Homo sapiens: one gene and its partners. The protein of the gene in region 2 binds, or shares a complex with, the protein of the main gene of each other region. Each region holds a gene or a part of one and is shown on either strand. Other genes may lie near its edges. The genes, in order: GINS4, MCM3, GINS2 and CDC45.

What was found.
Region 1: MCM3 (region 2) and GINS4 share a complex: the UniProt entries of both Homo sapiens proteins name them as parts of the CMG helicase complex.
Region 3: MCM3 (region 2) and GINS2 share a complex: the UniProt entries of both Homo sapiens proteins name them as parts of the CMG helicase complex.
Region 4: MCM3 (region 2) and CDC45 share a complex: the UniProt entries of both Homo sapiens proteins name them as parts of the CMG helicase complex.

What each region holds. Positions count from the first base shown.
Region 1 is NC_000008.11:41,539,257-41,545,560, reverse strand, and holds the end of GINS4 (DNA replication complex GINS protein SLD5), read right to left. Parts: intron 5,884-6,304; coding exon 5,786-5,883; intron 5,646-5,785; coding exon 5,557-5,645; intron 3,753-5,556; coding exon 3,662-3,752; intron 3,571-3,661; coding exon 3,474-3,570; 3' UTR 531-3,473; downstream 1-530. UniProt on the Homo sapiens protein: Required for correct functioning of the GINS complex, a complex that plays an essential role in the initiation of DNA replication, and progression of DNA replication forks.
Region 2 is NC_000006.12:52,274,714-52,281,747, forward strand, and holds part of MCM3 (DNA replication licensing factor MCM3), read right to left. Parts: intron 6,962-7,034; exon of another isoform or gene 6,840-6,961; coding exon of another isoform or gene 6,828-6,839; intron 4,887-6,827; coding exon 4,648-4,886; intron 4,138-4,647; coding exon 4,029-4,137; intron 2,976-4,028; coding exon 2,822-2,975; intron 2,486-2,821; coding exon 2,354-2,485; intron 1,764-2,353; coding exon 1,555-1,763; intron 1-1,554. UniProt on the Homo sapiens protein: Acts as a component of the MCM2-7 complex (MCM complex) which is the replicative helicase essential for 'once per cell cycle' DNA replication initiation and elongation in eukaryotic cells.
Region 3 is NC_000016.10:85,685,955-85,693,446, forward strand, and holds the start of GINS2 (DNA replication complex GINS protein PSF2), read right to left. Parts: upstream 3,001-7,492; 5' UTR 2,945-3,000; coding exon 2,855-2,944; intron 1,621-2,854; coding exon 1,506-1,620; intron 1-1,505. UniProt on the Homo sapiens protein: Required for correct functioning of the GINS complex, a complex that plays an essential role in the initiation of DNA replication, and progression of DNA replication forks.
Region 4 is NC_000022.11:19,503,898-19,510,931, reverse strand, and holds part of CDC45 (cell division control protein 45 homolog), read right to left. Parts: intron 5,571-7,034; coding exon 5,451-5,570; intron 3,547-5,450; coding exon 3,415-3,546; intron 3,167-3,414; coding exon 3,068-3,166; intron 2,403-3,067; coding exon 2,241-2,402; intron 1-2,240. UniProt on the Homo sapiens protein: Required for initiation of chromosomal DNA replication. Core component of CDC45-MCM-GINS (CMG) helicase, the molecular machine that unwinds template DNA during replication, and around which the replisome is built.

The DNA of each region.
Region 1 (6,304 bases), on a different chromosome or scaffold from region 2:
TAAAAATACAAAAATTAGCTGGGTGTCATGGTGTGCACCTGTAATCCCAGCTACTTGGGAGGCTGAGGCAGGAGAATCGCTTGAACCCAGGAGGCGGAGGTTGCAGTGAGCTGAGATTGTACCACTGTACTCCAGCCAGGGCGACATGTCAAAAAAACAAAACAAAACCAAAGCACTCTGCAAGCTTCCTGGCTAACTCTTGTACATTGCAGCAGGGGAAGTTTGATGCCTCTGAGGGCGATGCCAAAGCCAGGCGGGCTGCTGGGGTGTGAGCATGGAGTAAATGCAGCAAGGTCACAGATGACGGATGATGACTGCGGTGGGAAAACCCACATAGCGGCCTGCAAGCACGTCTCAGGAAGAGCTGTCTTGCTAGGGGCAAACTTACGGTAAAGGATGACGCCATCATTTGATAAAATGTTCTGTCATGCTTTTAGTGGCGAGTTTTTAACAATAAAGCAAAACACTCACCATGAACCAAATGTTAAAATCAATGTCAACCAAGTCACATCATTTCCTGTTCCACTTGGTTTTGAAATTCAACTTCTCCTTTATTTAAAAATGACATCAAAACCAGTCTTCTCTTGAAGAGGTAATTTAGGAAATGGAGCAATTTACTGTGGTTTTAGAGGATGTAAAGTGCTCCGTGCAGTTGGACATGTACAGGGCAGCAGCTGGAGGCATGAGGACGTAGAGCCGTCATTCAATGTGGTCCCCGGGCCAGCAGCAACTGCACAACATGGGAGCTCCTTAGAAAGGCAGGATCCTGGACCTCACCCTGTTTCAGAACCTACATCTTTTTTTTTTTTAATTTGCAAAAATTTATTCATATACAAATGTGCAATATCAATAAAATGACCAAACAGGTTTGTTCTTGAAACATTTTCAATTGAATGGGAATTAAATGCTTTTGAAAAGTGACAAAATGATCATACAGTGAAGTTGTCTCTTTCTTTATATAACAAGCATAAATCAAGTACTAACTCTTGATTTTACTCTGAATTAACCATGACATACTAAATGAACTTGGGCTTCAGGCAGAACCTACATCTTAAGGCGAGCTCCAGGCGATGGGTATGCACATTAAGGCTTAGGAAGCACACTGTTCTAGGTTAACAGCTCAGGTCTCTGGGCTTAGCACTACAGGGAGAACGTGACTAGGAAGTGCAGACTTGGGTTCTGATCTCAGGCTTACCACTAAATATCTGCTGTTTCCCACAGCCCTGCCCGCTTCTCAGGACTGTGGGGGACCAAATGGGATCCTTATTAACAAGGTCCTGTAAGATCTGGGTCCAGCCTGCCTCAGACCTTATCATGTAATACTTTCTATTTTGAGTTGGGCTTTCTAACCAGGCTGACCTCAAGTAGAGTTTGTTTCTGCCTCAGGGCCTTTGCACAGGCTGTTTTCTCTGCCTGGAACACCCTCCCTTTTGACCTCTGCACTGCAGCTGCCTCCTGTTAATCAGATCTCAGCCTAAATGTTGTCTCTCCAGTGAGACCCTCCAGGGACTGCACGAGTATCAAATACCTTTGTCAAGAAATAAAACCTCCCCAGGCCGTGCGCAGTGGCTCACGCCTATAATTCCAGCACTTTGGGAGGCCGAGGTGGGTGGATCACCTGGGGTCAGGAGCTCGAGACCAGCTTGGCCAACATCATGAAACCCCATCTCTACTAAAAATACAAAAAATTAGTTGGGTGTGGTGGTGTGCACCTATAATACCAGCTACTCGGGAGGCTGGGGCAGGAGAATCTCTTGAACCCAGGAGGTGGAGGCTGCAGTGAGCCGTGTTCACACCACTGCCACTCCAGCCTGGGTAACAAGAGGGAAACTCCGTCTCAAAAAAGAAAAAAAAAAAAGACCTCCCTTGCTTTCCCCTACTGATTTCTCTTGGAAATGACAGCAATGTTACCCTGATTACTCTCGCAGCCCATACCCTGCAAATGGAAATCTGCCAACTTCAACCAGGAAGAAAAGACTGGAATGCAGGTTGCTTTTTATAGCATTTCAAGGAAAGATCATTCATTCACTGCCTATACATCCTTCCTTCCGGCATCACTGTGAGACTCTGCATGCACATTAATTTCATCCATTCCTCTTGAAAAAGTGAAGGACTTAAACCAGAAAAGCGGCCACAGGTCACAATACAAGATGGTTAACGTCACTCCGTTAACAGTGCCTTGGCCAAGGACAGCCAGATGGCCCGGAGGCTGACTTGGCAAAGCTGCTGGAGAGTTGGGGAGGGCTGCGGGTTAACAGCAGGGAGCACATACTTCATTAAACTACAAGCCGGGAGCCGTCCAGAGGTGCCTTCTGCTGCAGAATGGAAATTTAATAATGGTTTATTGGTTTAGTTGTGATTTTCAATTAAGCACGACAGAAATTGGTTTTAAGTCCAATATTAGAGGTTCTAAAATGTTAGTTTACACAGTCTAATGATGTATGACGGGAGAAGGCCACAGCTGTTTTCTTTAATCTATTTACAATCTTCGCAGCAGAAAGGCTAAATGAACTCTCCTACCATTATCAGGTCAGGGCTAAATGCAGCCCCGATCACAGGCAGTGATGCCTTCTTATGAACTACTTCTGCCTGACTTTCCTTAGCTCAGAAAATACTACAAAGGGAAAAGGCGTGCTGAGAGCCTCTGCTGCTCCGCCAAGTGTGCAGAACAAACAGTACAATGGCCCCATCTACTGACACGGGCTAAAACAGCAGACAGGACATGCAGCAACACAAGCAATCCTGCCTCGAGCTCCGCTTCACGCCCGTGACCCACAGCACTGCTGAGGAATGTCTGATGCCTAGTAAACTACTTTATTATTGTCCTCAGGCACAACGTGATACGAGGGGTTTCTAGTATTTTCTCTACGGTTCCAGGTCTTCATTCTTGTTTACGCCTAGTGTGTTTTTTTTGGAAATGGAGTCTCGCTCTGTCGCCCAGGCTAGAGTGCAATGGCACGATCTTGGCTCACTGCAAGCTCCACCTCCCGGGTTCACACCATTCTCCTGCCTCAGCCTCCTGAGTAGATGGGCCCGCCACCATGCCTGGCTAATTTTTTGTATTTTTAGTAGAGATGGGTTTAGTAGAGATGGGGTTTAGTAGCCAGGATGGTCTTGATCTCCTGACCTCATGAGTTTATGCCTAGTTTGTTTTTTTTTTGTTTTTTGTTTTTTTTTTTGAGACAAAGTCTCACTGTCACCCAGGCTGGAGTGCAATGGCACGACCTCGGCTCACTGCAACCTCCTGCTCCCAGGTTCAAGCGATTCTCCTGCCCCGGCCTCCTGAGTAGCTGGGATTACAGGTGCACACCACCAACACCCGGCTAATTATTTTGTATTTTTAGTAAAGATGGGGTTTCACCATGTTGGTCGGTTGGTCTCGAACTCCTGACCTCATGATCCGCCCGCCTCGGCCTCCCAAAGTGCTGGGATTACAGGCTTGAGTCACCATGCCTGGCTGTTTATGCCTAGTTTTAAATTAGCTGGACAGCTCCAGATGCAACCAGAGGTGCAATGGTTTTGTATCGGATCAAGTGCTGTGAGCCCTTCTCCAGGTCAATCACGTAGTCCCTGAAAAAGAGGGAAACACATTTGCCTGCAGAGCTCGGCTGGCCCTCCATCGGGAGGAATGTGCCCACTGTGAAAGATGCACGCCACTCACCTCTGCTCATCTGTGTCTGGTTCTACCAGTATGTTTTCTTGTCGTTCTCTCACTCTCAGAAACACGTAAGAATCTAGATCTGGTTTGGGAACTGCCAGGAAAACAACAATGTGATTAGGAAATCCTCGGCCAACAAAGTCAACAAAGTAAAAGTTGCTGGGAAGAATGGTATGGCACACTCAGGGTTTAGATAGGAGCCCAGCCCATTCCTACTCTTCAAAGATGCAGACAGAGTGGCTGACCAGGGAGGAAACCGGACACGCATTGGGCCTTTTGTTTTCCTCAGGCAGCCTCAGCAAAATGACCAATTCAGGGTTCCACAAGTCTGGTATGGGTCTGACTTGCTCCTGGTGTTATGGGCTACACTGTGTCCCTGCACAATTCATACGCTGAAGCCCTAACCCCCAGTATTTCAGCGTGGGATTGTATTCGGAAACAGGGCTTTTAAAGAGGCAATTAAGTGAAAGCGAGGCCAAGTAGTGTGGGCCCTAATCCAATCTGACTGGTGTCTTATAAGAAGAGAATAGGCCAGGCACAGTGGCTTATGCCTGTGATCTCAGCATTTTGAGAGGCTGAGGCTGGAGGATCAATTGAGGCCAGGAGTTTGACACCAGCCTACGCAACATGGCAAGATTCTGTCTCCACAAAAAAATTTTAAAAATAATAGCCAAGCATGGTGGCACATGCCTGTAGTTCCAGCTACTTGGGAAGCTGAGGTGGGAGGATCGCTTGAGCCCAGGAGTTCAAGGCTGCAGTGAGCTATGACAGCGTCAATCTACTCCAGCTGGGGCAACTGAGCAAGACCTTGTCTCAAAAAATAAAAAGCAAACAAAAAACAAAAATCAAAAGGTGGGGGGGAGGGAGGGGACTAGGACACACAGAGACTAGGATTAGTGATCTTATAAAAGTAGCCTGAGAGTCTGCTTGCCCCTTCCCTTCTCTGTGAGGACATATGGAAGGCGCCATCTATGAGGAACAGGCTCTTGGCAGACACTGAGTCTGTGGGGGCCTGGATCCTGGACTTCCCAGTCTCCATAACTGTGAGCAGCCCAAAGGGACTAAGACCCTGTTCCACCACCGCAGGGGTGGCTGTGTGGTCCCCAGCCCCAGCACAGGCTGGGCAGAGATGAATTTCCAGGGCTCGGGTGTACTGGAGCTCGTTTGATTTGGTATGGCAATTTTGCCTGAGGAGGTCTTGCTTGGATCTGGCGCACTGTGAAACACTGAGGAACATGGGCTTTATCCTGTAAGCCAGGGCCCCCGGTGGGTTGATCCGACGGTAAGGGCTCTGCCTATACCTCCCTTTCCTTGCTCGGCAGCCCTCAGGGGCTGGTGCGAAGAAGCCCGAGGAGGGGCTCCGGCCAAGCTCCCCTTCCCCGGCTCCCCTCCCTCCTCTCTCCACACCCTCCAACCTGCTCCCTCTTCTGAGGCCACAGGGACTCACTGGAGGTCTCCCTAGCCTCCTGTTTCAGCCCTCCCCTCCAGCTAGGCGAGCCCTGTGCATTCTGGGACCTGTGACGAAGAGATGGCCAGCCCCTCTAAGCAGGGGCAATGTTGGTGTAGGCTCTGCAGTGCTGGTACTCGGGGCTGCCAGCACCTCACAGAGGCTCAGCAGATGGCTACTGAAGGCGAACGCGGCTCCATGCCCGAGTCTACAAGCACCAGTGCAGTCATGGGGCTCAGCCCACCCCAGGGAACAAGGAAGCAATGCTCAAATGCCTACCATTGGATCTGCTTTCCGTGATTTTTTTGGTTTTTAGCTAGAATCCTTGCTCTTCTTTCTGTTTATCTACATACTTACTTTTTTGTATTTGGGTAAAAACAGTGAAGAGAGGATCCTACCCTGGGACACCTGAGGATGGGTGGGCCACCTGCAGGGAGAACGTCCTGTTTACCTGCCCGAAAGAGGTCCACCTTCTGTAAGTTAGGGGGCATGTGCTTCAAGGCGACATTTTTCAGATAGGACTCTGTGTTCGCCATGAACCTGAAAGACATGGATTCAAATCGCTGTGGTGTACACAGCTGATGGACGTCCAAGGTTAGCAGGCAGCAGCGCACAGGCCTCTAGGACAGGCCTCATGCTGAACCAGCCAGGTGCCCCACGCCAACGGCTCACTCACTCACTCTCTGGCAAAGGCCAACTCTTCCGGCGAGAGGCTGGAAGGCTCCCCCTCAGGACGTGTTTTTTCCTTCTCAAGGACATGAGGGAAAAACTTCTCTATCTGTGAGGATAAAGCAAAATCTTCATGAAAACATTGGCAAAAGTCAAAGAGAAGGATGTGGTTAACATAAAGAGGGTTTACACAACCCTCCCGAGGAAGGACATGTGGCCTGGAGGTGGGATAGGGTGGGTGGAGAGACACACCATAAGACACAGGACAACGTCTCTGAGACACCCTTGCAGGCAAGCTATGGACCTGGGGCTAGGGGACGGCTTGGATTGGGAGACTCCTAAGTGGCTGAAAAAAGAATGCTGACTCAATGGGTAGATGTCAAACTGTAGGGAAGTCTTTTGTGAAAGACCCTTGCCACAGTCCAATTAATAATCACATAAGGTTTTTTTTTTTTTTTTTTTTTTTTGAGATGGAGTCTCATTGTGTTGTCCAGGCTGGAATGCAGTGGTGTGATCTCAGCTCACTGCAA
Region 2 (7,034 bases):
AGTTTTTCCTTGGGATTCAAAAACCCCAATACTCTCCTTTCAATTCTGGGCCTACTGGACTGATACTTACCCATCCACATACACTTCACAGTCAGAGAACATAACAACCTTTAGGTAATAATGATTTTGACCATGTTCACGTTTCAGGTCCTGCCATTTTTCTTGTATTTCCCAATCACTCTTGAGAATGACATAAACATACATTATCATTTATTTTATTTTATTTTACTTTTAAAGATGAGGTCTCACTATATTGCCTAGGTTGGTCTCAAACTCCTAGGCTCAAGTGATCCTCCCACCTCAGCCTCCCAAAGTGCTAGGATTACAGGCATGAGACACTGCGCCCAGCCCTATCATTAATTTTAAAAGCTATGGTTTTCAACCTTGGCTACACATTAAAACCAAACCTGTGGAGCCCTTCTAAACCATAGCTACCAAGAGCTCCAACTCAAGAGATTTTAATTCAGAAACTCTGAACGGGGGACCATGCAACTGTATGTATAAAAAACACCATCGCATCGCAACAAGGTGTTCCCATACACTGTGGGATTGATTATAAACTGCCAGGACACAGCATGAGCTCTGGGCTCAAATCCTGGCTCTGCGATTTTCAAGTTTGTGGCTCTTGAGCAAGTTACATAATCTTTTGTACCTCCATTTTCTCATCTGTAAAATAAAGATAACTACACATTGTGAGGTAGTTACTGATAGGATAAAAGGAGTTGGTAAATACAAAGCATTTATGAGCATTCATTAATAGAAGTATTAATATGGTACAATCTTTAAAGAGGGTAATTTTGCAATCTCTACCAAAAGAAAAATGCACATAACTCTTAATCCAGTAATTTCCTTGCTAGGTATTTATACTACAGATATATTCCCAAATCTATCCACACACATAAAGGGATGGCCACTACAGCTTCATTCAAAATAGGGAGGAAAAAATGGAAACCACTAAATACCCATCAGATGGAGACTAGTTAAATACATCCCTGTGACGGAATACTAGAAATCTATTTTTTTAAAAGGAAAAACTCAACAAACCCCACGCACAGACAAATATAAAAGATTATATCTAGCACATCACAGTCATGGTAAAAACAGAGATAATTCTTAACAAGGAAATAGTGTATTTGCTGGTACATGCTTAAAGTTTTGTTTCCTGCAACACTTCAAAGCTGTTATTTCTTGGCAAAGTGACAGGAGAGAGAAGCAAGTCTTTTCGTTTTCATACTATATACCTGTTCTGTTTAGAAATTCTCCCGCCACATGCATGTAGTCCTTTTATTTAATGGACGGTTAAATATGTTAAATGGACTGTTTAACTGTACTGTTAAAAAGTTACTTTTAAATAAGGAACTTTCCAGGGGATTCTGCTGTGCAGGAATGGGTGAGGAACACTGCTCTAAACAAAGGACAATAACAAGAAAATGGCCTTACTTTTAGTCTTTGGCCTATTATTCCCCTGGGTCACCTAGAATACACTTCTCAGCCCAGTTAGTCAGCAAAACCAAATGAAGGTGAGGACAATGGTTGGGGCCTGATTCCACTTACCCTGCCGTAGACAGGGTTGGCAGCTGCCAAAACACTGCAGCGGGCATTCAGCCGAGCATGGATGCCAGCCTTGGCAATGGTCACTCGACCCTGCTCCATCACTTCATGGATGGCTGTGCGATCCATGTCAGACATTTTGTCAAATTCATCAATGCAAACCACGCCTCGGTCAGCCAGGACCATGGCCCCTGCTTCCAGACGGCGCTCTCCTGGGAAGTGAGAAGGTAAAAATACGTGCTACAGTCTAGGTTATAGGGGCCAGAAGGGAAGGATTTCAATCTCCTTCCTAGGAATCTCTCACTTTGCACGTGAGAATGCGGCAATGGTGTGTTGGCTCCGAGAAACTTAGAGGAAACCCTGGTGGGTCACCTTTTCAGCTCTAATCTAAATATTAATAGTATCTCTTTGTCCCACTTTGACCCCTAAGTAACTAGCTTCTCACAAATTTCCTTCATAGATTCTCTCTTCGGCCTCAACCTCAAGTAATACCCCAACTAGACCTCTGCCTTCTCTTCACTGGTCTCCAAATCCCTTCCTCTAGTTCATAAAATAGTACAATCTTCATTTTTATTTCCTTTCTAATGTGCTAAGACTTAATCCTTTAAATCGAAAACATTCCTGTAAATAGATGAACACCAAAGACTTAAATAATTCACCCACCATTGCTGAATACTCAGTCCTCTATAATCTGGACCCAACTAACCTATCAGCTGTATCTTCAGAACACAAGCCAGGGCACACAAAGGATCTATGCTCAGGCTCTCTGCTGGGCCTTTGCCAAGGACCCTTACACCCTTACCTGTTTCCTGGTCTGTGGTGACAGCAGCCGTCAGACCCACTCCAGAGGAGCCCCGGCCAGTGGTGGGGATAGCTCGGGGTGCAGTGCAAAGCACATACCGCAGAAGCTGAGACTTGGCAACGGATGGGTCTCCTGTAGGGTGGGGGCAGTGATGACTCTCTAGGAAACTCCCCAGCACCCCCAGCAAATTCTGCCTTTCTAGCACAGCTCTTGACACAACAGAGTCACACAGTAAGTGGATTTTAATATTTTTCCTTCGCTTTTCCCTTCACCACTCACGGAAGAATATTTATATACTATAAATCAGGAATTCCAGAGATGACAAAAAAAAAAAAGATTCATTTTAGCCTTTTGTCCTTTGATAGGACTGAAATACTGCTAAGTACAGAATATACAATCTTACATATTATAGGTCTCCACAACCACTCCATCAGAACAACAGTCTAAAGCAAATCCCCAACATCGTACCTATTAGAAGAATATTGATGTCCCCACGGATGTGGCTGCCATTTTCTAGGTCTCGTTCCACCCCTCCCAAGAGCAAGCAGAGGATTGCTTTCTTGACATAGTCATGCCCATGGATACTTGGGGCCAATGACTTGGCCAGCTGGTCAAAGATATCCTACAGGAGAAATAACCAATGGCAAGCCTAGTGAGATTCAATGGGACTTTGTGGAGCTCCACTTTATATACTTTGGCCTATAGAAAATACTTGAAGAGGGCCAGGCGCAGTGGCTCAGGTCTGTAATCCTAGCACTTTGGGAGGCCGAGGCAGGCAGATCACGAGGTCAGGAGTTCGAGACCAGCCTGGCCAACATGGTGAAACCCCATCTCTACTAAAAATACAAAAAATTAGCCAGGCGTGGTGGTGTGCGCCTGTAATCCCAGCTACTTGGGAGGCTGAGGCAGGAGAATCACTTAAACCCAAGAGGCGGAGGTTGCAGTGAGCAGAGATCGCACCATTGCACTCCAGCCTCGGTCACAGAGCAAGATTCCGTCTCACCAAAAAAAAAAAAAAAAAAAAAAAAAAAGAAAATACTTGAAGAAACACACAAACAGGTACATTGTTCCTAACTGCAAAAAATTATTTTCTAAGACAAATTACACTATCAGGCCATTATCAGAGTAGGCACAGAGCAGCCTGGATTCCAAAACTTGTTTAGAGGTTTAATCTTTAAGGGAAAAAAGTATCCCCAGGTTCAAAACATTTTAGGTTTAATAAGAACATGTACTGTGCTTGAACAGTAACCTTTATCATCACACATTCATATATGTAGTTCAATTCTAAATGTGGATATACATCCTATCTTAAAAAGATAAAAACAAGTTGGAGAACTAAAACAAAGAAAAAATGTTTAAGTAGTAATGCATCACTAACGCCTTCAGTAATAAATAGACTTACTGGTACACGGGCAAGTTAACACCTATCCTAATATTTGTACTAGGCTCATTTAGCAGCCCAGCAGGTAGCAGGTATTAAAATTGTTTAATAACAACAGAATTACTAAAGAACAAACAGCAAAAACACCCTTCATTTGTTGATTGAGACAAAAATAGAAAAAGCTAACACCAAACCTCAACCCTTCCTTCTGATCTAGTACAAAAATAGCCATGCACCAAAACACAACTCTTAGAAATCCATTCCCACCCTCAAATTTCTAAAGGATGCCCAGACCTTGGATCGGGTTTTACTGAACTTCTTGATCTTGGCTATATCCTCAGCAGAGAAAGAGGGCTGAGCATCCTTGCTCATCTGCTTAACATTACAGGCAATCAGGACAGTCCTGGGACAAACAGAATAAAGAGGAAACCCGTTATATTCAATTCCTAACATCAGTAGCTAGTACCCCTAGCAGGAGTAAGCCTTTTTAGGCTGCCAAACTAGACCAGCCAATTAGAGTTGGTGGGGAGGGGGCAGGTAGCTATTGTGAATTAAACAACTGGTTCTGTCTGTGATCCAAATATGCTGATCATGCCCCACCTCTGGAATTGACCCACAGAACTTCAGACAGAACTGTGTATGGGGACGAAGTGTAATTAAATGAGAAACTCCCAGGAAAGCCATGAGGCTGTAATCATTGTCACCAATAACTCTCATTTTTGGCATATGATGGTTAAGTATCACCAGCTTTATCTGATAGAAAAGAGGTATTGAAGGTATCCTGTCTCCCAGGCAGGTAGAGTGCTCCACCTATCAGATATAACTCTCTGGAATATGGCAAACTGGAGAAAGGATATTACCAGAAATGGAAGCTGTCAACAGCATTCCATATACTTTAAGGCAGACCCTTTACCTGAAGGTCCCAGAGGTGTAGCCTCCCTTCTTTCCAGGAAGGCAACGGTAGGTTCCCACCACCTGAACCCGGTCACCAGGCTTCGCTTTATCCACCAAGTCATCATCCAGAATGACGTCCACAGAGCGGGGGAGCTGGCCGGCTGGGGCCTTCTCCGGCATCTCCTGGATGGTGATGGTCTGGTGATCCTTGTAGACAGAAAGGCCATATTCTGTCTCAAGGGGATTGTTCTCCTCATCCTAGAAAAAGGCACACAGAGGGACAGAGTGATCTCCGTCCTGTCTTAAAAATGCCACACTCACCTGTCATGGCAAATAAGATGACTTCATAAAATTTTATTATTCAGTAACAAAAAAAGCCAAGTACCTTCTCTAGCTTTTTGTGTTCCTGTCTGTTTTAGTAACAACCATCGAATGGAAGGGGCAACCCATAGTCTGAATGGACTATGGTTATATTAACATCTAAATTAAGATTCTTACTTCCCCTCTAAAGCTGAATATATGCTTACATTCTGAAGCAGTTTTTCCACTCCTAGGTAATACCCAACAGAAACATTCACCCAAAGCCATGCATTGTAATGCTCATAGCAACATTATGCCTAGTAGTCAAAAATTTTAAAGTGTAAAAATGCCATCAATAGTGTAATGGTTAAACACGGTATATTCACATAAATGAATACTATACAGCAATAAAAATGTATGAAACACACCTATACACAACATGGATAAATCTCATAAACACAATGTTGAGCATAAAAAGCCCATAAGTATTTAAATAAAAAACAGCTGAAAGTAATCCATACTGTTAGACATCAGGATAGTGGTTACCCCTAGGTAACATGAGCCCTCAAGAGGGACTTCTGTGTGCTAATATTTCCTCATTTGGAGCTGGTTACACAGGTGTACTCAGCTTGTAAAAATTCATCAAGCTATACACTTATGTGAGCTTTCCTGTACGTATATTAAAGTTTTACTTCCTTCACATTTGAATTTTCTAAAAACACAGTTGTCACTTATTGAGTGTTTGCTATGTGCCAGGCACTGTGCTATTACTTCACAAAATTATCTCATGTAATTATCACAACAACTTTGTAAAGAAGGTATTTTCACACGTCATGCACAAGGAAACCAGGAGACTAGGAGAGATTAAGTAAGTTCCCCCAGGTCACACAGTTAAGTAGCAGAGTCTTGACTTGATACAGGTGTTAACTCCAAAGCCCACGCTCTTAAGCATCACCATAGACAACCTCCAGAAGATCTGGTCCAATGTATTTCACTTTTCAAGTAAAGAAGCTTGGCCACAGTAATCAACAGAAGAGTACTTCCCAAGTACTTCCTGAAGAGGAAATTCTAAAAAAGTGGAGATCTTAAGGTCCGAAGAAGACAACAGAATGACTTAGAAAATACAACTGGCATGAATTAAAGAGACACAGGTCCTAGTCCTTAAGGCCATCACTAACTGGGACCGTAAGCAAATTGTTTAACTTCTCTGATCTCAGCATTTCATCTGGAGGTAGACTAAATGATGCTAAAGTATGTTTAAGTTATAATTCTAAGATATTCATTCGTTTTTGTTTATGTTTCATTTCTCCACCACTGTGAAGACTAATGACGAGGACTGGGTCTTATTTATATCCTTGTCCTCCATAGCGCCTAATAGTGCTTTGAATACAGTAGTTCTCAATTAAAATTTGATGAGGGGAGGAGAGGAATTGTTTGATAGAATCAGTTCAGACATCAAGTAATCCATATAAATGATCTTTTGTCTCCAGAGGAAAACCTTGCATTGTCCTCAATCCAGATCAATCTGAACACCAAGAAGAAAGCATTTTCCTATGCCAACCTGCTCCCAAACCCGCAACAAAATATTTGTAAAGATTACATAACAGTCTAGCATTATTTTTCTACTTTTTAAAAAGCAGATTCTAAAATTATAACGTTGTTAAAACATCTATGTAGATGACTTCTTCTTTTGACTATTCCTTAATTTTCTAAAATGAACAAGTGTTTTCTTAAAAAAATAATAAGAGTTGTGGCTGGGCATGGTGGTTCATGTCTGTAATCTCAATACTTTGGAAGATGGAAGCAGGAGGATCACTTGAGGCCACGACTTCCAGTCCAGCCTGGGCAACATAGCGAGACCCTGTCTCTAGAAAAAAGTGAAAAAAAAAATTAGCGGACCTGGTGGTGCATGCCTATAATCCCAGGTACTCAGGAGGCTAAGGTGAGAAGATTCGTTGAGTCCAGGAGTTTCAGGCTGCAGTGTTCTATAATGGCACCACTGCACTCCAGCCTGAGAGAGACAGATCCCGTCTCTAAAAAAAAAAATAAGAATTGTGAAGCCAGGTGGCGTAGCACATGCCTGCAATCCCAACTACTTGGGAGGAT
Region 3 (7,492 bases), on a different chromosome or scaffold from region 2:
AATTCTATATGTATGACCATACCCCTCTCCTCACCAACACACACAAAAAAATTAAGATTTTTTTTCCCTATAATAAGCTACTCATATCTCCAAGAGAAGAAAAAGATTTCAAAGGCTCAGAATAAAGCCTGTCTGCATCTTTGATTTGTTTCAGTTTTTTCTAGCAGCTTTATTGAAGCATAATTAATATATCATACAATTCAGCCATTTAAAGTATACAAGTTTTGAGGTGGGTGGATCACGAGGTCAGGAGATTGAGACCAACCTGGCTAACACGGTGAAACCCAGTCTCTACTAAAAATACAAAAACAAAATTAGCCGAGCGTGGTAGCGGGCGCCTGTAGTCCCAGCTACTTGGGAGGCTGACGCGGGAGAATGGTGTGAACCCAGGAGGTGGAGCTTGCAGTGAGCCGAGATCGCACCACTGCACTCCAGCCTGGGCGACAGAGCGAGACTCTGTCTCAAAAAAAAAAAAAAAGTATACAAGTTTTAGTAGCACTTGTGGGCTATTAAAAACAAAGTGTACAAGTCAATGGTGTTTAGTATATTCAGACTTGGGCAACCATTACCTCCATCAATCCCAATTTTCATCATGCCAAAAAGAAACTCCACAATCCCTCCATCACCCAAAGCAAGACCCCCATACTTAAGCAACTACTAATCTACATTGTCTCTATTGATTTGCCTATTCTAGACAGTTGATAGAAATGGAATGATACAGTGTGCGGCCTTTTGTGCCTGGTTTCTTTCATTCAGCAAGATCTTTAAGATGTTTCAGGTTCATCCACGCAGTAGCATGTATCAGAATTCCATTCCTTTTTATAGCTGAATAATATTCAACCTTATTGTGATATATTATTTTCATGCATTCTCTATAACTGCTTCTCAACATGCTAATCTATACTTATTTTTAAAATTTTAAAACAAATGCTTATTTAAGGTCATATATTTATTTTAAAGCAAATTGAAATATCTTACATTAAAATATAGGCTGGGCACAGTGGCTCACGCCTATAATCCCAGCAGATCTGCCAAGGTGGCCAGATCGCTTGACCCCAGGAGTTTGAGACCAGCCTGGGCAGCATGGCAAGACCCCATCTCTACAAAAACGCAAAAATTTGCAGGGTGTGGTGGCGCACGCCAGTGGTCCCAGCTACTTGGGAGGCTGAGGCAGGAGGATCACTTGAACCCAGGAGGTGAAGGCTGCATTGAGCCGAGATTGCACCACTGCTCTCCAGCCTGGGTGATGGAGTCAGACCCGTCTCAAAAAACAAACTACAACTTTCACACACACCAAAACCTAACATGACATTACTAACAGTGGTTAGCAGACTCTGCTGAGAGGTGAATCTGGAAGTATTCCTTTCAGCTGATCAGTAGATAACGGAACAGAGGGAGCACGGACCTAGTCAGGAAGGAGGCCCCATGCCTCCACCCCGTGGGAGAGGGCGTCACCCCAAGCCCAGCCCCACCCACGCATCAACCAGTCTCCACCACATCCTTACCTACATCCATCCACTCTGGAGGGAGCAGGCGACATTTCTGTCTTTGTTTCAGGTTAATCGCCAGCCACAGGGGCACTTCCACGGGTAAACCAGGGTTAAAAGGCCCCAGGTCCCCCTGCCAAAAGTAAAACAATTCCCCGTAAGATTGAAAAAGAACAAAAAAAGCATTACTGTGCGTTACTGCTATCAAATAAGAGGCAAGGCATTGCAGAGGCTGAAGTCCAAATGCAAATAATAAAAACCCAACTGTTACCAGACTCAGAACAAAGCGCCTCCTGAGCGGCTCCGAGACACCTGCGAGCGTGGGGCTCAGTCCTTCTGGCCTTTCCGCGGACAGGATGCAAGTCTCCCCTGAGTGGGTGGGGGGCGCTCCCTCTCCCGCCTGCACCCTCCAACTCCGGAACAGGTTTCACACACCCAATGTTGGGGTCCTGGGGTGCGGGGAGGTGGGTCTGGGCAGGTACAGAGCCTGCCCTCCTTCTCCAGGACTCCCAGCGCCGAGGCGCCTCCCTCATACTGAAAACGCAAAGCCGGGCGGGCGCGGGGGCTCACAATCCAGCTACTCGGGAGGCTGAGGCAGGAGAATCACCTGAACCCGGGAGGCGGAGGCCGCAGTGAGCCGAGATCGCGCCACTGCATTCCCGCCCGGGCGATAGAGCGAAACTCCATCTCAAAGATAAAGACAAAAACAAACAGAGGCAAAGCCGACTTTTGCCCATAATCCCAGCCCTTTGGGAGGCCGACGTGGGAGGATCGCCTGGGGAGCCCAGGAGTTCGAGGCCAGCCGCATCTCTACCAAATAAATAAGCCGGGCGCAGTGGCTCCCGCCTGTCATCCCAGCACTTTGGGAGGCCGAGGCGAGTGGCTCATGAGGTCAGGAGTTCGAGACCAGCCTGGCCAACACGGTGAAACCACATCTCTACCAAAAATACAAAAATGCGCCGGGCGTGGTGGCGGGCACCTGTAACAGCAGCTACTCAGGAGGCTGAGGCAGGAGAATCGCTTGAACCCGGGAGGCGGAGGCTGCAGTGAGCCGAGACGGCACCACTGCACTCCAGCCTGGGCGACAGAGTGACACTCCACCTCAAAAACCAAAAAACAAACCAAAAAAGCCCCCAAACAGATCAAAAAAACCCTGTAAACCCGGGCGTTCGGGGCACTGGCAAAGAGCGCAGTCTCGCTTTCCTCATCCGAGAAGCGGGAACGGCGGTGAGCGAGTCAAGCGCCGAGTGGTGGCCTCCGCAGATGCGGGAGCAGGGCGAGCCCGCGACCCCGGGGCTGAAGGCCACGCGGGAGCCCCGGACGCGCCCAGCCCGGCCTCCCCTCCCCACGGCGGGCCCAGGCCTCACCCCGATGAGGTAGATCTTGTCCAGACTGAAGTTGGGGATAATGGTAACCAGCTCCTTCTCGGCGAGGAATTCGACCTCGGCAGCGTCCATGGCGGCGCGAGCTGCAGGCCAGAGCCTCACGGTCTCCTCGGGCCCCTCAGCGTCCCGGAGGAGACGCCGCGGCCGCCGTTTTCCCGCCACGGCGAGAGCCCGCCCCGGCCGGAAGACGGCCTGCGCCAGCCTATAGGAAGGCGGTAGACAGCCTATAGGCGCTGTCTGCGGGCGGGGGGGCGGAGACCGCGCTCGCGAAGAGCCCGCGGATTGGCAAGGCCGAGGGAGGCTGCGCGCCGGCCCCGCCCCGGCCCGCGGACAGGCCCCGCCCCCACCCCGGCCCCGCCCCGCCCGTGGGCGTGCACCTGGCGCTGTCAGGATCTCCTGCCGCGGGCGCCAGCTTTGGTGTCCCTTCACCTGTCCCCGGCGCCCGCCGCAAACGGCCCTAATCAAGAGCCGGGGGTGGGGTTCCGGGCCGCTTCTACGCCGGCGTTCCGCATGGGGCCAAGAGTAAACGCATTTATTTTATTTTAATTTTTAAACAACTTTTCGTGGATTTGGGATCTTGCTGTGTTGCTCAGGCTGGTCTTGAACTTCCGGTCTCCAGCGATCCTCCCATCTCGACTTCCCAAAGTGCTGGGATTACAGGTGGGAGCCATCGTGCCAGGCCAAGAGTACAAGCATTTATTGGCCCAAACTCAGCACCGGGCCCGGGACTAGGCATCACCCGGGCTGACAGATAGAGGGATGAGGGAAGACCTTGTTTCCATTAATTTCACAATCTTCTGCCCTCTCTGCACACATTGTTTAAAACAGCTGTAAAAATGCAGATTCCTCCATCCCACCCCACAGCTTCCAATTCGGACACTTCAGAGCAGGAGCTCAGAATTTGCACTTCGGCAGGAGCCCCACATGAGACAGGAGCGGCAGGTTTGCACCACCTGAGCAAATACTCACCTGCTCGCTGGACCGGCTGCCCCTGTACAGTGGGCGCAGGTGAAGCCAGAGCGGTGGCTGGAGCTCACCTGTGTCAGAATCCCCTAGCGGGTGCCCATTGTCTGTGTGCACGCTCCTGGGAGTTGGGATTCCGGAGTCGTGGAAAGGACAGAAAGCTGAATTTCATCCAGGGCCAGGTGATTTTGATGGGGTGGTCATGGCCGGAAAAGCTTCCTGGGGGTGAAGCGCTATTCTAGGACTGCAGTCGAATTTGAAACCTTGATAATTAGGCCCGCGAGAAAAATCACAGGAGACATGAGGATTCCAGGGTTTGGAATTCCAGCAGAAAGCACCCCCTGCCCCCGCCCCAGCTAACCGGATGCTCTCCTCTCCAACCTCCCTGAAGCCCCATAGAGGGTCACTGGGAAGGTGAAAAAAAGCCGTAAAGCTCACAGGCCTGCTCACAAAGCTGTGTCTGTTGTGTATCTGCCTTAGAAGTTGTTATTTACAGATCTGGAGTTTTCGCTGAGTTACTTTCATGTGTGAAGACACATACTCTTGGCCAGGCACGCCTGTAATCCCAGCACTTTGGGAGGCCGAGGCAGAAGGATCACTTGAGGCCAGGAGTTTGAGATCAGCCTAGGCAACATGCCAAGACCCCATCTCTATTAAAAAAAAATAAAAACAAAAGAGAAAAGACAGATATGCTCGAAGAGAAGAAATCAAAGGTCACTCTGGATGCTATGTGACCAAGGGCAAGTGACAACTCTGAACCCCTGTCTCTTTATCTTCAAAATGAAGTAGGAAGAGAAGGAGCCTGCAGTGTTCAGGGAGGAGGGGGAGCTGTGGGCCATCTGGCCCCTCCCACAGTAGAAGCTCCCTCAGGCAGCTGCAGACGTGTGTGCCAGACTGTCCGGGTTTTGACTGATGAGGGAATGTTTTCTTCACTGGCAAATATTTGTGTTCCAAAGCTGACGAGGGTTTGCGTCCTGATTTGTCCAGCCTATAAAAGAGCAAAGGAAAAGATGAGAAAGCTGAGGTTCAGAGAGGCTGCTGAGGGATGGGTAGGAGGGCTACCAGAGCCTGGCTGTCCACATCACAGAGCCTCGGCATCCTTATCTGTAAAATGGGGACAGGGCTGCTGTTAGCCTCACTGGGCTTTGGAAAGAACAGGATGGGAAAGTGTGCAGCTTTACAGATTGCAGAAGGGTGGTGTCCTGATGCCTCAAGCCTGAGTGTGTGAGAATCACTTGGTAGGCTTGTGTCTTCCCCTTCATGGCAGCACGATTCATAATAGTCAAAATGTGGAAACAGCCCAGTGGCCACCAACTGACGTCTGGACAAACAAAATGGTGCCTATTCATACGATGGAGTAGTATTTGGCTACAAATCATAATGAAGTCCTGGTACACACTACAACGTGGATGAACCTCAAAACCGTGATGCCAGTGGCGGCTCACACCAGTAATCCCAGCACTTTGGGAGGCTGAGGTGGGAGGATCACTTGAGCCCAGGAGTTCGAAACCAGCCTAGGCAACATAGTGAGAGACCATCTCTACATTAAAAAAACAAAAAAGGAGTGGGGGGTGGCACGGTGGCTCACGCTTGTAATCCCAGCACTTTGGAAGGCCGAGGCGGGAGGATCACGAGGTCAGGAGTTCAAGACCAGCCTGGCCAATATGGTGAAACCCTGCCTCTACTAAAAATGCAAAAATTAGCCAGGTGTGGTGGCACACACCTGTAGTCCTAGCTACTCGGGAGGCTGAGGCAGGAGAATCACCTGAACCTGGGAGGTAGAGGTTTCAGTGAGCCGAGATTGTGCCACTGCACTCCAGCCTGGGTGACAGAGCAAGACTCTGTCTCAAAAAAAAAAAAAAAAAAAAAAAAAATTAGCCCAGCACAGTGACACAGACACACACCTGTAGTCCCAGCTACTAAGGAGGCTGAGGTGAAAGGATTGCTTCAGCCCGGGAGGTGGAGGCTGCAGTGAACCATGATTGCACCACTGTACTCCAGCTTGGATGACAGAGCGAGACTCAGTCTCAAACAAAAAAAAAGTTATGCTAAGTGAAATAAGCCAGACACAAAAGTCCACATATTATATGGTTCCATTTCCATGAAATGTCCAAAATAGGTAGATCCATAGAAACAGAAAGTGAATTAGTGGTTGCCAGGGACTGGAGGAGGGGGAATGAGGAGTTAGGGGGTACAAGGTTTCTTTCTGGGGTGACAGAAATATTCTGGAATTAGATAGCGGTGATGATTGCACAAATCTGTAAATATACTAAAAACCACTGAATTGTACACTTTAAAAGGGGGAATTTTACAGTATGTGAATTATGCCTCAATAAAGCCATTTTATTTGTTTGTTTGTTTGTTAATTTTTGAGACAGGGTCTGTCACCCAGACTAGAATGCAGTGGTATAATCTCAGCTCACTGCAGCCTCTGCCTCCTAGGCTCAAATGATCCTCCCACCTCATCCTCCCAAGTAGCTGGGACTACAGGTGTGCCACCCCACCCAGCTAATTTTTGTATTTTTTGTTTTTGGTAGAGACAGGTTTTTGCCATGTTGCCCAGGCTGGTCTCAAACAACCCTTGGGCTCCAGCAATCCACCCACCTTGGCCTCCCAAAGTGCTGGGATTAGAGGCATGAACCACCACGCCCAACCTATAAAGCTGTTTTGAAAAATGCCCCTCTCTAAGCCCCAGGCTCAGACTTTCTGATTGACAAGTATGGGGTAGGCCCAGGTATACAGCACACTCAAGAAGCTCCCAAGAGGTTTTTATGATTGAGAATACCGGTGAAGTGATTTGCCCCAATCTGGTCCAGCTCTGAGCCACTCCCAGCACCCAGGTGAAGGCCAATCCTCCCACCTGGCCTCAGGGTGGGGGAACCAGAGTCAACAGACAGAAGGAAACCAAAGGGGAGGGGAAGAGGGCAGTGGTGGAGGTGGGGGTGCTGGACCTTCCAGCATCATTTTCTGTTCTGTAAAACGCCTCCCCTAGAAAGCTGGAATGATTCATCTGGAGATGAATTACGGTTGGAGACGTCAGTATGAACTCAAGTTTAGCTTAATGCAGGTGCCAGGGGATGCACACAGAAGTATTTTGTTTTGCATTTTATGTTTTATTTTAATTTACAATACTTACATGTATTTACTGGGTACAGTGATGTTTTGACACAGGTATACATTGTGGAACGGTCAAATCAGGTGAATTAACGTATCCATCAACTTAAATCCTTATTTTTATTTTTCTGTAGTAAGAATATTTAAAATATACTCTTTTAGCTATTTTGAATAGACAATACATGACTATTAACTGTAGTAACCATGATTTGCAATACATCTCCCGTCTTTTTTCTTTTTTTCTTTTTTTTTTTTTGAGACAGGATCTCACTGTTGCCCAGTCTGGAGGGCTGGAGTGCAGTGGCATGATCACGGCCCACTGTAGTCTTGACCTCCCAGGCTCAAGTGATCCTCCTGCTTCAGCCTCCTGAGTAGCTGGGACTACAATTCTGCACCACCATGCCTGGCCAATTTTTTTTTTTTTTTAGTAGAGATGAGGTTTCACTATGTTGCCTAGACTGGCCTCAAATTCCTGGGCTCAAGTGATCCTCTCACCTGGGCCTCCGAAAGTGCTGGGACTACAGTCATGAGCCATCGTGCCCG
Region 4 (7,034 bases), on a different chromosome or scaffold from region 2:
ATTGTCAATAGGTGGAAACAAACCACATGCCCATCAACTTATGAATGGATAAATGAAATAGAATATATCCATCCAATGGAATATTATTTATAATAAAAAGACACTGGCCGGGCATGGTGGCTGATGCCTGTAATCCCAGCACTTTGGGAGGCCGAGGCAGGTGGATCAAGAGGTCAGGAGTTCAAGACCAGCCTGAACAACACGGTGAAACCCCGTCTCTATTAAAACTACAAAAATTAGCCAGGCTTGGTGGCATGCGTTTGTAATCCCAGCTACTCGGTAGGCTGAGGCAGGAGAATTGCTTGAACCCAGGAGGCGAAGGTTGCAGTGAGCCGAGAGCGTGCCACTGGACTACAGCCTGAGCGAGAGTGAGACTCTGTCTCAGGTGGCGGACGAGGGAAAAGACATATAATCCCGATACATCCTACAATATAGATGAGCCTTGCAAATATGATGCTAAGTGAAGAACCCGGTCACAAAGAACCATATCTTATATGATCCCATTTGTATGAAATGCTCAGAACAGCCAATTCATAAAGACAAAAGGGAGACTGGTGGTTGCCAGAGGCTGGGAGGATCTCTCTGGGGCAACAAAAATGCTCTAAAATTAGATAGTGGTGATTGCTGCACAACCTTGCAAAACCTAACTGCAACCTACTAAAAGTCATTGCAGGCTGGGCACAGTGGCTCATGCCTGTTCCTCCCAGCACTTTGGGAGGCTGAGGTGAAAGGATTGCTTGAGCCTAGGAATTTGAGACCAGTCTGGGCCACATAGTGATACATCTTTACAAAAATTTTTAAAATTAGCAAGGCGTGGTGGCATGCACCTGTTGTCCCAGCTACTCAAGAGGCTGAGGTAGGAAGATTGCTTGAGACTGGGAGGTCAAGGCTGCTGTGAGCTATGATCATGCCATTGCATTCCACCCTGGGCAACAGAGCGAGACCCTGTCTCTAAAAAAATAACAATAAAATAAATAAAAGCCATCACATTGTACATTTTAAATGGGTGAATTGTATGGCATGCAAATTGTATCTCAATAAAGCAGTGGAAAAAAAAGTGTGCTTGGGAGCAGAACCAGGAAATCCCAGAAAGCAGGCCCCCATATATACATATGCATCTTTACCACTGCACAAAAGCAACAGAAGTGGCAGCTCTGTGAAGCCAGAAAAGCTGTCTGAATCATGCCTCCTCCTCCTAAAAAGTCAGGGAAATGAAATTTATACATAAAAAGCATGAGAGAAGTAGCAAAGTCAAATCCCCTCAAAGTCACTATTAGAAAAAAAGAGAATAAGGGACAGAATAACACCTCTCTGGATAATGAAAGTACACTAATGTGAAAGTTGCAGATCCCAGGATGAAATCACTTTTTGACAGGCCCAAACAAATTAAAGCTGGGAAAGCACCAAGGAGAGCTCCTGCTTGCATGTCTGGAATAAAGACTCAAAGACTTTCTAAATAACCCCACAAGAAATCCCTTCTTTAGGACTGCAACAATTCAGATAAGATGCTCTTAAAATATAACACTTGCCCAGTAATGCATCTTCACCACTGAACTGACGCCAACTCTGGCTCTGAGTCTCTGAAACCAATGAATTGTTTCCAAGCTAGCTTTCGTGAACTTCTCCTTTTGCCAATAAAAGTGTCCCCTTAGCCTCCTCTCTTTGGATGCATATTTGGCTTGCCATAGCTGTGCATCGCAGACACTATAATCCTCTTTTCTAATTCCCAAATAAATTCAGTGTATTTGGAGATATTTTTCTCTGATGTCTTTAGTCTGACACTAGACAGACATGCTAAAAAAAAGATCCAAATTGTCACATTCCATTTCAAAACAAGCGAAAAGACATGGAAAAATATAGGACATCTCAGGAAGTGAGATAAGAAAGAATTGGAAAATTAAAAAATTGAGAAATGACAACTATAAGATTAAACACAAGAACGAATATACATAACAAATAATGCCTTTTGTTAAGAGATACAAAAGGTAAAAAAAGAGAAAATTTTAAAAATCAAAAAGAAAAAAAAGCCAAAAAAGATTCAAGAGAAAGTGACAAATACTGAAGAGGGGCAGGTAATGTGTCAGGTGCACACCACACTGGCACTGTGATTCCAGTTCACCCAAGCAGTTTCTGCAGGACACAGTCACTCCCACAGCCCTGGGGTCCCCGTAACTGACCTCCCTGGGCAGTGTGAGAACCAGTGGTGGCCCCATGAGGCAAACCCACAGCCCTCCTGCTACCTGGAGAGGCTGTCCAGAGCCTGGATGAAGTGATCTGTCCCTGAGCCATCCTTCTCGGGGCTCTCCATCAAAGACATGGTGGCAAAGACCACGTCGCTGGCCAGAAACTTGTGCTTGAACCCAAAATGAATGCTGAAAGTCTGCACGCGCATGTCCTTCATCCTGTCATGGGAGCAAACACAGCTGTCACCCTCAAATTGTGGGCAAGCTCTCACTGCCAGGCAGGCCAACAGATGTGCTAATGTCCCTCACAGGCCCAAGTCAATGCTTCCAGCACAGCCATGCTGCTCAGAGGATGAGGCAGGTCAGAACGTCCAGACATACCAGCCCTGCAGCCCAGAGTGGCCGGGTGCCTTCTTGTCAACAGCTTTATGGCTGGCTTAGGGGGTGTGTGGGGTCCTCTCTCACACCTTAGCATGCCAGCTGGCTGGGGTGGGAGAAGCCAGGGGCCTCCAGGAGTGCCCATGGACTTGGTCGGGCAGAGTTCACCTGAACCTGGCCCTGTGGCCCATTTGCTGTCTCCAGTGAAACAGACTGGGGTCGACCTCACAGGTCCCACAGCAGCCCTAGGATCCAAGGATCCTAGGATCCTAAACCTCACAAGCTTGAAGAAGTCTTATTTTTAACCCAAAAAGAACTCAAGACTTCAGGAATGGCCAGACTCAGATAACACTCATTTGTACATTCTCGGGTTGTTGTTTTTTTTGCATTATTTTAGGAGCACGTTGGTTTTTTTTGCATTATTTTAGGAGCACAGTTAAAGTAGAACCCTTCACTTTAATGAACCTGGATGTAATGAAGATAAATCCAGAAAAATGTGTGTTTACCCAAATTTATTTGCAGACTCTTCAATCATTTCCCGCAAATTCTCCTTCAAGGAGATGTCCATGGCCTGGAACTTCTGCTTCACCTGCTTCAGGGGAAGACTGGAAAGAGCAAGCCCAAGCCACATGAGTGAGGTCACCACACACCGACAGGGTGGAAAGAAACCCAAACCAAGGGCAAGCGAGGATGTCCCCGCACCAGCATTCAGAAGATATTCTGGGATCTAGGGCAAGGAGCTTATGGCAGAACAGGCTGCATTTTATAACTAAGTTGGTCACAACAAAGCAGAGGGGCTTTTCCCTTGGGGGTGGCCAGGGCTGGCACTGCAGAGGCCCAGGCAGTCACTCACCCCATGTCTGCAAGGAACTCCTGGAGCCGCTTCTGTCCATGCACAGACCACAGCTTGAACCTGGCTGCGGTATAGCTGGTGTTGCACAGGCTGTCATGGAGGGACCAGTGCTGGTAGAGCACCAGGCGGAGGCTGGGCCTGCAGTCAAGGAGCATGCAAGCACCCACTGGCCGCCCTGAGCACTCTCGTAACTCCAGCAGGTGGGCCACTCTGATGGCGGGGCCCTTTCTCACCAGGCCTGCCTGCAAAACCAGGTATCCCAAGAGTGACCTGGAGCCCTTTGACCTTCTTAGCTTAAGCTGACCCATACAGAGAGCCTGTGAAGTGACAGGCATAGACCACCATCCGTCTGACAGGCAGAGAATCTGGAGCACAGGGGTCTGCAAAGTCCAGGTGCTGTGGTCACATGGAGCAGTCATGGCCACACATGACGTAGGAGGCTGGGCGTCACCAGCTTGTCGTCCTGCACCTCCTGCTCCACCTAGCCCAGCCCTCCCTACAACCCATTCCTCCGGAGAGCCCTCCACTGGGACCCCATCCACGAAGCGCCCCCATCCTCAGCCCTTTTTTCGTTTTTTTTTTTTGAGACGGAGTCTCGCTCTGTCGCCCAGGCTGGAGTGCAGTGGCACGATCTCGGCTCGCTGCAAGCTCCACCTTCTGGATTCACGCCATTCTCCTGCCTCAGCCTCCCGAATAGCTGGGACTATAGGCACCCGCCACCATGCCTGGCTGATTTTTTGTATTTTTCGTAGAAACGAGGTTTCACCGTGTTAGCCAGGATGGTCTCGATCTCCTGACCTCATGATCCACTTGCCTTGGCCTCCCAGAGTGCTGGGATTACAGGCGTGAGCCACAGCGCCCGACCTCCTCAGCCCTTTTCTTAAACATATCCATCACTGCCCCTGGCACCGTGAGCGCAGTTGTGAGTGTGGACTGTCCCCCACGGTGGATTTCCCCTCTACAGGACGAGAGCCTGGTCCTGCCTGCTTCCTCGGCATGCTCAGTTCCCACCACTGCCCCTCCCAACTCCTGGGAACTCCCAGGCCTTCAGACCACCATGCTCCCTGCCCACACTCCAGCAGCTTCCTCAAGCCCCAGCATCCTCAGCTCCCTGACTCCCTCCCTCCTGTCTCAGTCACACACTCCCATGGTCCCTGGGTAAGTGAGCCCACCCTGCCACGCACATGATGGGACCAGCTCCAGTGCACAGCGGCTCCCCTCCCCAGGAGTTCAGCCAGCTCCACCCCGCTCCCCAGGCTCCGATGGCCACCTGACTACTGACGTGTCCACCCTCACTCTTCCTCCTTCCCAGCCATCACAGTGCAGAGACAGGGCAGCTCCGTCCCTGACATCATGCTATCTGACTGCTTACAGCCACTGCTGCAGTTTGGGCCAAGCCACTATTGTGTGGCCTTGGAAAGCAGTGACCATCTCCTTGCCCCCAACCTACCTCTACTGGGCAGCCAAGGGACCTTTTAAAAACCCTGACTCAAACTCTGGTCACTCCACAGCCTCCCGCTGCCCTTGGCTCACAAGGCTTGCTCTGGCCTCCTGACACCTGACCCCAGCCAGTCCCCCAGCCCCTCCTGTGCTCAGTACAGCAGCTGCCACACTGAGTGTGGCTGAGACTGTGTGAGATGTGGTCTCCCCATGGTCTTTTCTGAGCACTCCACCAATGTCCCATGTGCTTCTCAAAAGACACGTCACGCTGTGTGATTACATGGCAGCTGCCTTCTTTCCTGACTGCGTGAACCACTGCCCGCACTGCTACCATGTCCAGAGCCAGGCCCACAATAAGCACTTTACAGGGATGTGCTGGAGAAGGGTGATACTTCCAAACTCAGCTCTGGCATTTAGAAGCCAAAGCCACACAGATGAGCTGGGGTAGCACACCACAGCCCCTTCCCCCAAAACTTCCTGCCCCACCTGCTTTCCCTCCTGGGGATGTGGCCAGAACCCACAGAGGGTGACAAAGCAAACAAGGCCTGCTGAGCAGGGGTGCTGCCTGTGCCCCTCAGGCTGGGCCACAAGGATACTCATACTCAAAGGAGATCCGTGTGCAGTCCACGGAGAGTGTGTTCTCCTCATCCTCGTTCCGGTGGTTGTGGCGGGAAACGTGGCGCTGCAGGACACCAACATCAGTCACGTATTTCATTCTGGAAAAAAAAGTAGCACAAGCCTCGGCTGGTTCCCTCCAGCTCTTACCAGGCAGCCTAAGCCTAGGCTCCATTCCCGCTCAAGGCCTTCCTCAGGGGCCTGCTCACCACAGGAGCTGTTCCCATGCAGGGACTAAGGACATGCAGCCTGCATAGAAACCAAGCACCCAGGAAAACATGATTGGATGGAGCGGGGGGGTGTGGTCTCTAGCCTTGTCCACCTCCGGTCCTCATGGGTCTCACACCTCCTGAGAATGGGCACCGCAGAGGCCACAGCCCATACAGCCAAGATGACAGACTCCGTAAGTGACAGGGATCCACAGCAGAGTGGGTGAAATGTTCCCTATAAACTTTACAAAATTAATGAGGGCAGGGGGAGGGGAGAAATGAAAATGAACCCAGCTCGCAGCACATCAGCATCAGTCACTAGGTCGGCGTGCTCTCTGACTGCTTCCTCGTAGCTGCTTGGTGTCTCATTGCCTCAGAAGCATGTAGACCCTGTCACAAGATTGTAGTTCCCCTAACTGCTCCGTAGATCACAACTTGAACCTTAGGAAATGCTGTTTTCCCTTTGAGATATTCCTTTGGGTCCTGTATACTGATGGAGCTACTGACTGAGCTGCTCCGAAGGACCCCACGAGGAGCTGACTAAACCAAGAGTGCAGTTTGTACACCCTGATGATTACATCCCCCTTGCCCCACCAATCAACTCTCCCAATTTTCCAGCCCCTCACCCTCCAGTCCCCTTAAAAGCCCCAGCCCAGGCCGGGCACAGTGGCTCATGCCTGTAATCCCAGCACTTTGGGAGGCCAAGGTGGGCAGATCACCTGAGGGCAGGAATTTGAGACCAGCCTGACCAACATGAAGAAACCCCGTCTCTATTACAAATACAAAATTAGCCGGGCGTGTTGCTGCATACTGGTAATCCCAGCTACTTGGGAGGGTGAGGCAGGAGAATCACTTGAATCTGGGAGGCGGAGGTTGCGATGAGCCGAGACAGCGCCATTGCACTGCAGCCTGGGCAACAAGAGCAAAACTCCATCTCAAAAACAAACAAACAAACAAAACCAAAAAAGCCCAGCCCAGAACTCCTCAAGGAGATGGATTTGAGGATCTCCTCCCATCTTCTCACTCGGTGCCCTGCAATCATGAAACTCTTCCTCTGCTGCAAACTCTGCTGTCTCAGTGTAACAAGTCTGTTACTGCACAGCAGGCATACAAACCTGCTGGTCCTATAACACATTATGGTGAGTCTAGCCTCGAGCCCCTTGTGGGCATTTGCTTGCCTGCGGCTTGGTGCGCCTTCGCTGTTCAGTGGGAAGGACCCAGAGACAAGCCCAAAGCCCAAGCGGCCACTGGGTTCCATTGAACTATATGGGCTGCCACCCGTGCCCTGCCTGTTGACAGGGCAATGTCAACCTTTGGTGCATAGACTGCTCGCAGCAAAGCAAGTTTCTGGTTTTG